2 separate regions of the Homo sapiens genome follow, and region 2 is linked to region 1. The links come from fine-mapping of genetic effects on gene expression. A gene starts in region 1. The other region holds a variant in brackets. All regions are shown on one strand. Distances are between the middles of the regions. Region 1 holds the start of MTIF3 (mitochondrial translational initiation factor 3). Region 2 has its middle 28 kb from the start of MTIF3.

Evidence for each region. PIP is the estimated chance that this variant, and not a neighbour inherited with it, causes the effect.
Region 2: its variant is fine-mapped to the expression of MTIF3 in lung (TOPMed, PIP above 0.99). The same link has a PIP of 0.9 or more in tibial nerve.

The regions. Positions count from the first base shown.
Region 1 is chr13:27,448,101-27,452,488 of GRCh38, forward strand. It overlaps MTIF3 (mitochondrial translational initiation factor 3), which reads right to left and starts at 2,464. Exons shown (of 5, transcript NM_152912.5): 1 at 2,409-2,464. RefSeq lists enhancers at 1,701-2,615, 2,459-2,818, 2,839-2,898.
Region 2 is chr13:27,476,671-27,481,058 of GRCh38, forward strand. No RefSeq gene overlaps it. Among named protein-coding and RNA genes, the nearest start is that of MTIF3, 28 kb to the left of the region's middle. The variant C/A (reference allele first, on the strand shown) is at 2,705.

The DNA.
Region 1 (4,388 bases):
CTGGAACATGATTTAAATATGTGGTTTAGTAGATATGAGGGGTGGGTGGGTGGGCATTCTCGTCCTATAAAAAATTGCTTGCATGCATTTGAAATCATGTGGACTGAAGAGACGAAAATAACTTCTATTATTTGTTCACTCACTGCTTTTCTCATACAGCTGATATTCACAAGCTCATACTGTTATCTGTTCTTTCCTGGGAGATTGGATCAAAGTTGCATAGATTCTAGCGGACTAAATATTTGTGAAATTAATTTTGCCAATTCTCATGACTCTAAGAACTCTTTTACACCTTCCAAAGAAGTTTCATAAAGTCCTTGCTTCTGCCTGCAAACTGTCCCAGTTGCCCCATTCTGGCCTGAGCAGTGCAGCCTTAATCCCAGAGGGCCTGCGCTACCGTTACTGGGCCTTCATGCTCCCCTCCCTTGGCTCTGGTTTTGCTCTTCCATAGGGAGCACAAAGTGTACTCTCCATAATGAGGCTGAGCTGTTTACGTGCTAGAACTCCCATTTAGAACACTGGAAAAAGCCAACATTATATCTTTGGCCAACTATTTAACCTTATTTCTTTAGCTATTAAATTGAAATAATAACCATATGTTTTAAAAAGCTTTTAAACCCAGAGCTAAAGACTCTGTATTAAAAACTGGACTTACGGCCGGGCACGGTGGCTCACGCCTGTAATCCCAGCACTTTGGGGAGGCTGAGGAAGGCAGATCACTTGAGGTCAGAAGTTCAAGACCAGCCTGGCCGACATGGTGAAACCCCATCTCTACTAAAAATACAAAAAAACTAGCCGGGCCTGGTGGCGTGAGCCTGTATTCCCAGCTACTTGGGAGGCTGAGGCAGGAGAATCACTTGAACCCGGGAAGCAGAGGTTGCAATGAGCTGAGATCGTGCACCGCACTCCAGCCTAAGCATCCAGCCTAGGCAACAGGGTGAGACTCTCAAAAAAAATTTTTTTTTAACTTATTCTCCTATGTTAATCCTATGTTAGTCTTCTTCCAGAACTCTAGTGATGGGATCACTACCCATCCACAACCTCCAGTCACCTCCAAGACACCTTTGACGCCTCCACTTTCCCAGTCAACCCAACACCAAGCCTCATCGACTTCATTTCCTAAACCCCACTCGAATCCATCCAGTCCTCTCCGTATCCACTGTCACCACCGTCAGTTTAAAACATCGACCACCTCGTTTGGATTCCTGCCAGTCTCCTAACTCGGCTTGAGCCCTGGCAACCAGTTCCCACTGCACTGCGGTCACTACACCCAGGACCTTCCTCACCTTAAATAAAACTGCCCCGAGATTAAAGATCTACACCTTCGCCAGGCCAAAAGGCCCTTCCCACCTCTCCAGTTTCTTCTTTATGCCTAGGCCACACTGGCCATTCGGTTTTTGAAATACAGTACTCTCGTCCTTGGTTTAGGAAACGCCAGATCCTTAGCGCATTCTTCTGATTACCTTCCAAACTAAGCCAGTTCTCCCATCCCTCCCCCAATTTACTGAGCTTAACACTGAATGCTTCTACAGTCCAGTTGACCTTTCCTTTAAAACATTCATTACAATTACAGTTTTGTGATGATCTTAGCACTGCTGTTCTCCATCACTAGACCGTAAACTCTACGAAGCAGGAACAAAATGGACTTATTCGTTACTGTGTTGTGCCTGACAGAATGAATAGTAGTCGATTTTCAGATTCTTCTCTCCATCCTCTACTTTTCTAAGACTTAGGCCTTTCACAACACGTACTTGAAACTGAGACTTCTCAGTAAGAGAACTTCGTTTACTTGGTTCAAGTCTTAAGCCACGGAGCCCACTAAATGACAAATGAGAAAAAAAATCCCAGTCACTTCGCGACCTTCCCCCATAAGGCCTCCTCCCGCAACAGCAGGCAGCAAGAACAACGCATTTGTCCAGCATGTCCTGCGCAGGCGCCCTTCGCCTGGCTCGCTCTGCCCCACCTGTGCCAGGCAGTAAGCCGCAAGAGCACTTCCGGGAGCCCCCGACCCGGTTGTTGGTAAGTCGGCGGCGACGCCCACCTGCAGAACGGGACCGGCGGAGCGCCAGGGCTAGAGACGGGACGTAGCGACGTACTGCGTGCGTGCGTGCGCACAAACGAGGGCGCGCATGTCGGGACGGAACTAGAAAAGCTCAGTGGGGCTGGCGGCAACTCTAGGTCTAACATCCCTCGGAAGTTCGTGCAGCGGCCTCGCTGAAAATGGCTTTACAGCCCGGCAGAACCCTCCGACTCCGCAGCAGGACCTGCGGAGCCTCTCCGCCCTCGGTACCGGCGGGACGGGGTAGCCCTGACCTTCCGGGTGCCTCCTCCACAGGGGCGCCCCCTAAGGCCACGCCCTCCCGATGCCGGTCCGCGCACCGCTCCGCACGCCTCATATTTAGCATTACCTGTGCTGGGGCAAGCGATTGACATACTGTAGCGGACGCAAGTACAGCGGATCTGCGGCGAGTCCCCTTCGCTCTCCGTAGTGGGCGGGGCTTCACCCCGCGTCCTTTAAAGGAAAGGTGATGGGCGGAGCCACGTTTTTCTACTGTTGGGATTCAGTTCCGCCGACAGAAAATGCGGAGAACGCGGAGGAAGTCCCTGAGGGGAAATTGCTGCTCACCTGGCTCCCGCTGCTCCGCAGGTGCGGTGAAGGCTAATGTCGAATTTCTGCAGCAATCGGAGCAGCCCTTACTCCAGTTACATTAACACCAATCTCGGTCTCCCACTAGGGCTTTATAAATTGCTTTCATAAACGTCTTTTTAATGTAACACTGAATAAAATGTTTTATAAGCGTCTTTTATAAGGATCGTAAGTGAAAGGGCGCTGTCTCCGATTTGCAGGTGAGCAGACAGCTTCGGAGTGAGAACGGCTCCCCGCGGGTCCCCGGTGGCGCGCGGCTCCCGGAGGCAAAACAAAGCTGGGGCCGGGGCGTCGGAGCCTCCGCGTTGTAGTTGGGAGAGGTTCGAACGGGGCCCCAGCTGGCGAAAGGGAAAACGGACCCGGACCCGGACCCGTGGAGCCTGCTCGAAAGCCGGGTGCTGGGGGTCTGGGCCCCGTGTCCCCCCTCTTTTTCTTCTTCAATAAGAAATTCCTCAAGGGCAGACTGCGAGTCCACAGTCGTGAAGCCACCTAATCTGGCTTCATACCTGGAATGTTTGGATTCCTGGTACGAAGAAAAACTAACATTTATTGGCTACTTGTCCACTGGAAGGCGTTGTCTTATTTCTCATTAACTCCTTGAGTCAGCATTACGTCTTTTATTACAGATGACACAACTACTAAAGCTTTAAATAGTTCTTTGGGAGCAAAGACGAAATCTCCATTTCCTTTTTAGCTGCTGGTAGCTCGACGCTCACTGTTAAAATAGGGAGGTAATGAAACAACTCTTGTGTGAGACCGAAAGTCCAGGTGTGCATCTTGGCCATTTCCAAGTTAATCAAGAAGAATTAAGGATTCATTTTATTCTATCAAAATTATTTCTCAATGCCAAGATATTTTGTGTGACGTAGATTCGGGGACAGACTGAGTAGCACAATACCTGGGAAAAGTTAGGTGCTCAGCAATTATAATTGCCCACATTTGTGATTGCTTTTGCCTATGTGCCAGACACTGTTCTACGCACTGAACATATCTCAAGTTATTCAATCTTCAGGACAACCTTATGAGCCAATTATTATTATTACCCATTTTACAGATGAGGGAACTGAAACAAATTTGCCCAAGGTCGCACAACTAGTAGCAGAATCAAGAATAAAAAAGCCAAAAAACCCCAAACCCAGGCAAACTTTAAATGTTCCTTGCATTGCTAGACTGAAGTAGTGAGAGAAACAGTAAACAGTACGAGTCCATGAAAACATTAAAAGGATGTGAAGTATGTACAAGTAACTGAAACATTTAATGCCCAAACTAAAGACTTAAAATTTGCTAAGGTAATAGCACAGGTAGATTCACACCAAGTAATCACTGGTAACTGAAGCTACCGGCCAGCATCCATTTGCAGTCCGTCTTTGAAGGCAGCTGTGTCCAGAGCAGGTGGTTTAGGAAGCTTTCTAGACTTCCATTGTCAGATGTCTCCACGCCTAGAAGATGGTGCTTTAGTGTTCCTGGGAGGAGACATGCAGAGATGGGGTGGCAATTACAGACATGCCCACAGATGGAGAGAAGCCATTTTTTTCATCTTTTCCCTTGAACTCTTCTTTGACCTCCAGCCGAAATGGAGCTTGGCAGCTTTTGTGGGGTTTTTTGTTTTTTTGTTTTGTTTTGTTTTGTTTTGTTTTTGGAGATGGAGTCTCTCTGTGTCGCCCAGGCTGGAGTGCAGTGGCGCGATCTCGGCTCACTGCAACCTCCACCTCGCGGGTTCAAGCGATTCTCCTGCCTCAGC
Region 2 (4,388 bases), 29 kb after region 1:
CCACCATGCCCGGCTAACTTTTTGTATTTTTAGTAGAGATGGGGTTTCGTCATTTTGGCCAGGCTGGTCTCGAACTCCTGACCTCAGGTGATTTGCCCACCTCAGCCTCCCAAAGTGCTGGGATTACAAGTGTGAGTCACTGTGCCTGGCCATTGCTTGAAGAATTTAGAGAATAAAACACCAGCACAGCACCCAGCATATAGTAGACACTCAGCAACATCACCGCCCTTCTTTTCTCTTACCCTAAATCTAGTCTGAAGGGAGATATGGGTGAGAACACATTTGCTCCCATAATTACCCTGAATTGTATTGGCTGACACGTAAAGCAGCATTTCCCTTGGAGAGAAGAATGGTGGAAAGGGTCTGGGGCCTTGGGTACCTTATAAGGTCCAGAAACCCTCTTGGCAAGGCCTGAATGCCCTACCTCAGCTCCATCAGCATTACCACCACCTGACCTTGTCCTGAGCCATAAGCCCTGGTGTTAGCTGTGGATACAGGAGCAAGGGCTTGGGGCAGGGGTGAAATTCTCCCTAGAACTACAACTGGAATGACACCCAGCAGGAGAAAGCCTCAATATGACTGTGTAAGATCACGGTGGTTCAGGAATCCCTTTTTTCCTACACTGTCCTGAGCAGGCTGAGCTCAGAACCACGAACATCTGCACACACGGGCAGCTGGCCCCGTCACCGGCCTCCAGGGGCAGTGCCCCCGCCATTATTAGTCATTACTAGAGCAAACATTAGTACAAGTACACACACAATTGCAGAATCATTGCTCTGATTGGAAACACTGGTGTGGAGTCTTGCAAGCATTCACTGGGTGAGACGGAAACTGTGAACTTGTTTTTCTAGGCTCAGACACTTCTTTCAGATCCAGGGCTGACAAAGAAAGGCCCATTACGTGGGGCACCTCCCCCAGGACTTCCTCTTCAAATATCAGCTAGATCAGGTTCCTTCTATGCAAATCATTTGCGCATTTATCCTGCTTTTCATTAACATAATATCTCCTGAGCCATCACCCTAGCCTCTCTCCTTTAAACATTTCACAGTCAAACGGAGCTCAACAGAAAGAGGGGTGATACCAGCGTCTTTGTTAAGGCGGTAGTCTTTATTCGTGTCTCCTCTGCCTGCTATATATTACTGTATGCCATAGCCACATCCAAAATGCTTTATTTTTTAGTGAAGAACAAAATAAAGCTGAGATGATCTACTCCTGGATTCAGAAGCCCCAAAATCTCAAGGAAATTGTGAATTCTACCTGTATGCACACAGTACACGATACTATGCTTGTTATCTATGAGACGGGCCAGATACTAGGTAGAACCTAAGAATAAATTGTGCAGCGGATGCGTTCTTTGCAAAAGACACTTATTACTGAGGACACATCTCCTCTGGATGGAGAAGTTATTCTGTGTAGGAGGGGGCTGAAGTGGGGGTTTCTACACCACCCTTTCTGGGAGAGCATGCTTCATTGCTTTGCCAGGTAGGGTCAGGTGGATGGGGTGGGCACCCCACAGTCCTATTCTGCTACTGACCACTTCCTCCCAATGGCACCTTTTTACAGTTTCTCACTTGATTTGTGCACACAAACACACAAGATCGTTCTTCTGGGGTCTGTATATGGTGATGTCGGCGTGTTTCCAATTCATTCTTCCTTTGTACCAGCACTTCGTAGGGAAACATAGGAGAGAACCCACTCGATGTTGTTAGGCTGAATTAATTTCATGTTTTGGGGTGGGAGGTAGGGGGACTTTCTGACTTCAAAGAGCCTTTGATTCTTATGTGATAAAACAGGGTACAGAACCATATATGATATAATCTTAGCTATGAATACAACCAACCCTGACACACCCACAAACACACACACAGGCTTGTGCATATATGCAATTTAAAAAAAGACTTCATACTGATACATCATAATGTTAAGAAAGCTTCTTCTGAGTGGCTGGGATTATCATTGGTTTTTAGTTTATTTTTTATTTTTTCTTTCAAAATGTCTATAGAAGCCTATATTACTCTTGTAATCAAAAAAGGTTACAAGAGTAACCTTTTATTTTGTTTCTTCTATAAAATAAAATCTTTTAATGTTTTTTCCTCTATAAAAATACCCTGGAAACTGATTAATTCTTAAGTAGTCATCAGGCAAATTTTTCAGAGGAATTAATTAACAGCTAGCTTAGAGCAAGGCATTGGAGAAATAGAACATGACATTAATATTCCAGGTTGAGGGAAAGATAGAGTGGTGACATGGAAGAGGAGAGGAGCTTGGCCATGCAGGATGATCTTACCAATGCCATGGCTTTCTTACTGGTGTTTATCTGGGACACACACATACACACAGCCTCTTCTTCTGCCATCTCCTAGTTCTGACACTCAGCCCTGAGCAGCCCTCAATCCAGCAGATGGAATACCTCCATGCCCAGGCTTTAAGGCCATAATCAAACTAATACTGTCTTAGTCTATTTTGTGCTGCTATACCAGAATACTTAAGAACATAAACTTTTTTCTCACAGCTCTGGAGGCTGAGTAGTCCAAGATCAAGACACTGTCATCTGGCAAGGGCCTTCTTGCTGAGTCCTCACGTGGCAGAAGACGGAAGAGTGAAAAAGAATCCAACTTCTGCTGTCAAGCCCTTTTAAAACAGTATTAATCTATTCAAAAGAGCAGAGCCCTTGTGACCCAAACACCTCCCAACACTGTTGCAT[C/A]GAGATTAAGTTTCCAACATATGGATTTTGAGGGACACATTCAGATCATAGCAGATATTAGCAGTCAAGGTCCAACCAGGAAAATGAAAATATCTCCAAATATTTAAAATGAGGAAAATAAATTTAAGAATTGGCTTCATAAATGAAGGAAGAGCTAAGAGGCCAACAGGGACCATGAAGCCACTGAGAGATTAGTACCAGCAGGAAGCCACTCCATGCACTTGGACTGATCGTTTCTGGTAAACCCACGGCTAAAGAAACCACAGAGGGAGGGAAGGAATGTCCTGGTTTCTCCCTTCCTTCCTCTCGTCTTCTACCAGCACCTCCCATGCCAAACCCAGCTGGCAGCAGCTGCCCCTGAATCCCACTGTGATACCAAGCAGGGCAGGGGAAGGAGGAGTAACAGGTCTGAGGGCAGGGAAGCTACAGACTGGACACCACCTATCATTGGGTCAAAGAGCCTGGGAGCTGCCAGCTTGTCCCTTTCCCTCCCACCCTACTCCCCTGCCTGTTAGCAGGATGCACTTGAATCATGCCAGGTAATTTTTTCCTAGTCTATATCATCTTTGTGCCAGATCACAAAGATGAAAATATTACATTAGTTAAAAACGACCTCGTAGTCATTTTCATAAATGAGGGAACTGAAGTTTCAGAATGGCAGTCCCTCTCAGCCCTTGCTTCCAAGTTCCACCAAACTGAGAACAACTTCAGGGGCCAGAGAGGATCAGCTTTATAACTGAAGCTCATATGAAAACTAGTCTGCCCCTGGGCAAGGTAGGGGCTTTCTTCTCCCTTTCCCAAAGTCACCAACTGAAAGTCCTGAATGTCAGCAGGCCGAGAAGCAGGAAGGGGAAATCCTCTAACTCAGGAGGGGCGTCCCCAAGAGCATATAGACCCAAGGAATAGGAGAGGAGGGCTGGGGCTGGAGTTGCTTTTTGGGCACAGTGATCTTACCTCTGCCACTGTGGTCCAATAGACAGAAGGTCTTGCTAATTAGATTACTATCTCTCCCTTGTAGGGGACTGCTATGCTTTGAATGTCCATCCCATCCAAAATTCATGTTGAAATTTAATCCTCAAAGGGGCAGTATTGAGAGGTGGGGCCTTCACGAGATGACTGGATCATGAGAGGGCTCTACCCTCATGAATGGATTAATCTATTCGTGGACTAGTGAATTAATGAGTTATGATAATAGGACTGACTGCTTTACAGGAAGTGGAAGAGAGACCTGAACTAGCATGTGAGCTTGCTCAGCCCCTCACATGTGATGCCCTGCACTGCCTGGGGATTCTGCAGAGAATCCCCACCAGCAGGAAGGCCCTCACCAGATGCAGCCCCTCGACCTTGACCTTCTAAACCTTCATGACTGTAAAAAAGAAATTTTTTTTCTTTATAAATTACCCAGCTTCAGGTATTCTGTTATAAGCAACAGAAAACAGATTAGGACAAGGAGTGAAAAAAGAGGTGAGGCATCCAAAGCTCCCTTTATATTTCCCTGAGTGGTACAAATGTACATAGAAGATCCTATTTTATGAGCCAAGGCAGGAATTAAAGAAATGAAACAGGAGGGAGGCCTCCTCCCACCCACACCTCCACCCTCAACTGTGAAGATAACTTGGGGCATTTGGGGGCTCCCTCAGCATTGAAGTTGTAGTCATGATAGAAAAAAAGGCTACCTGGGGCA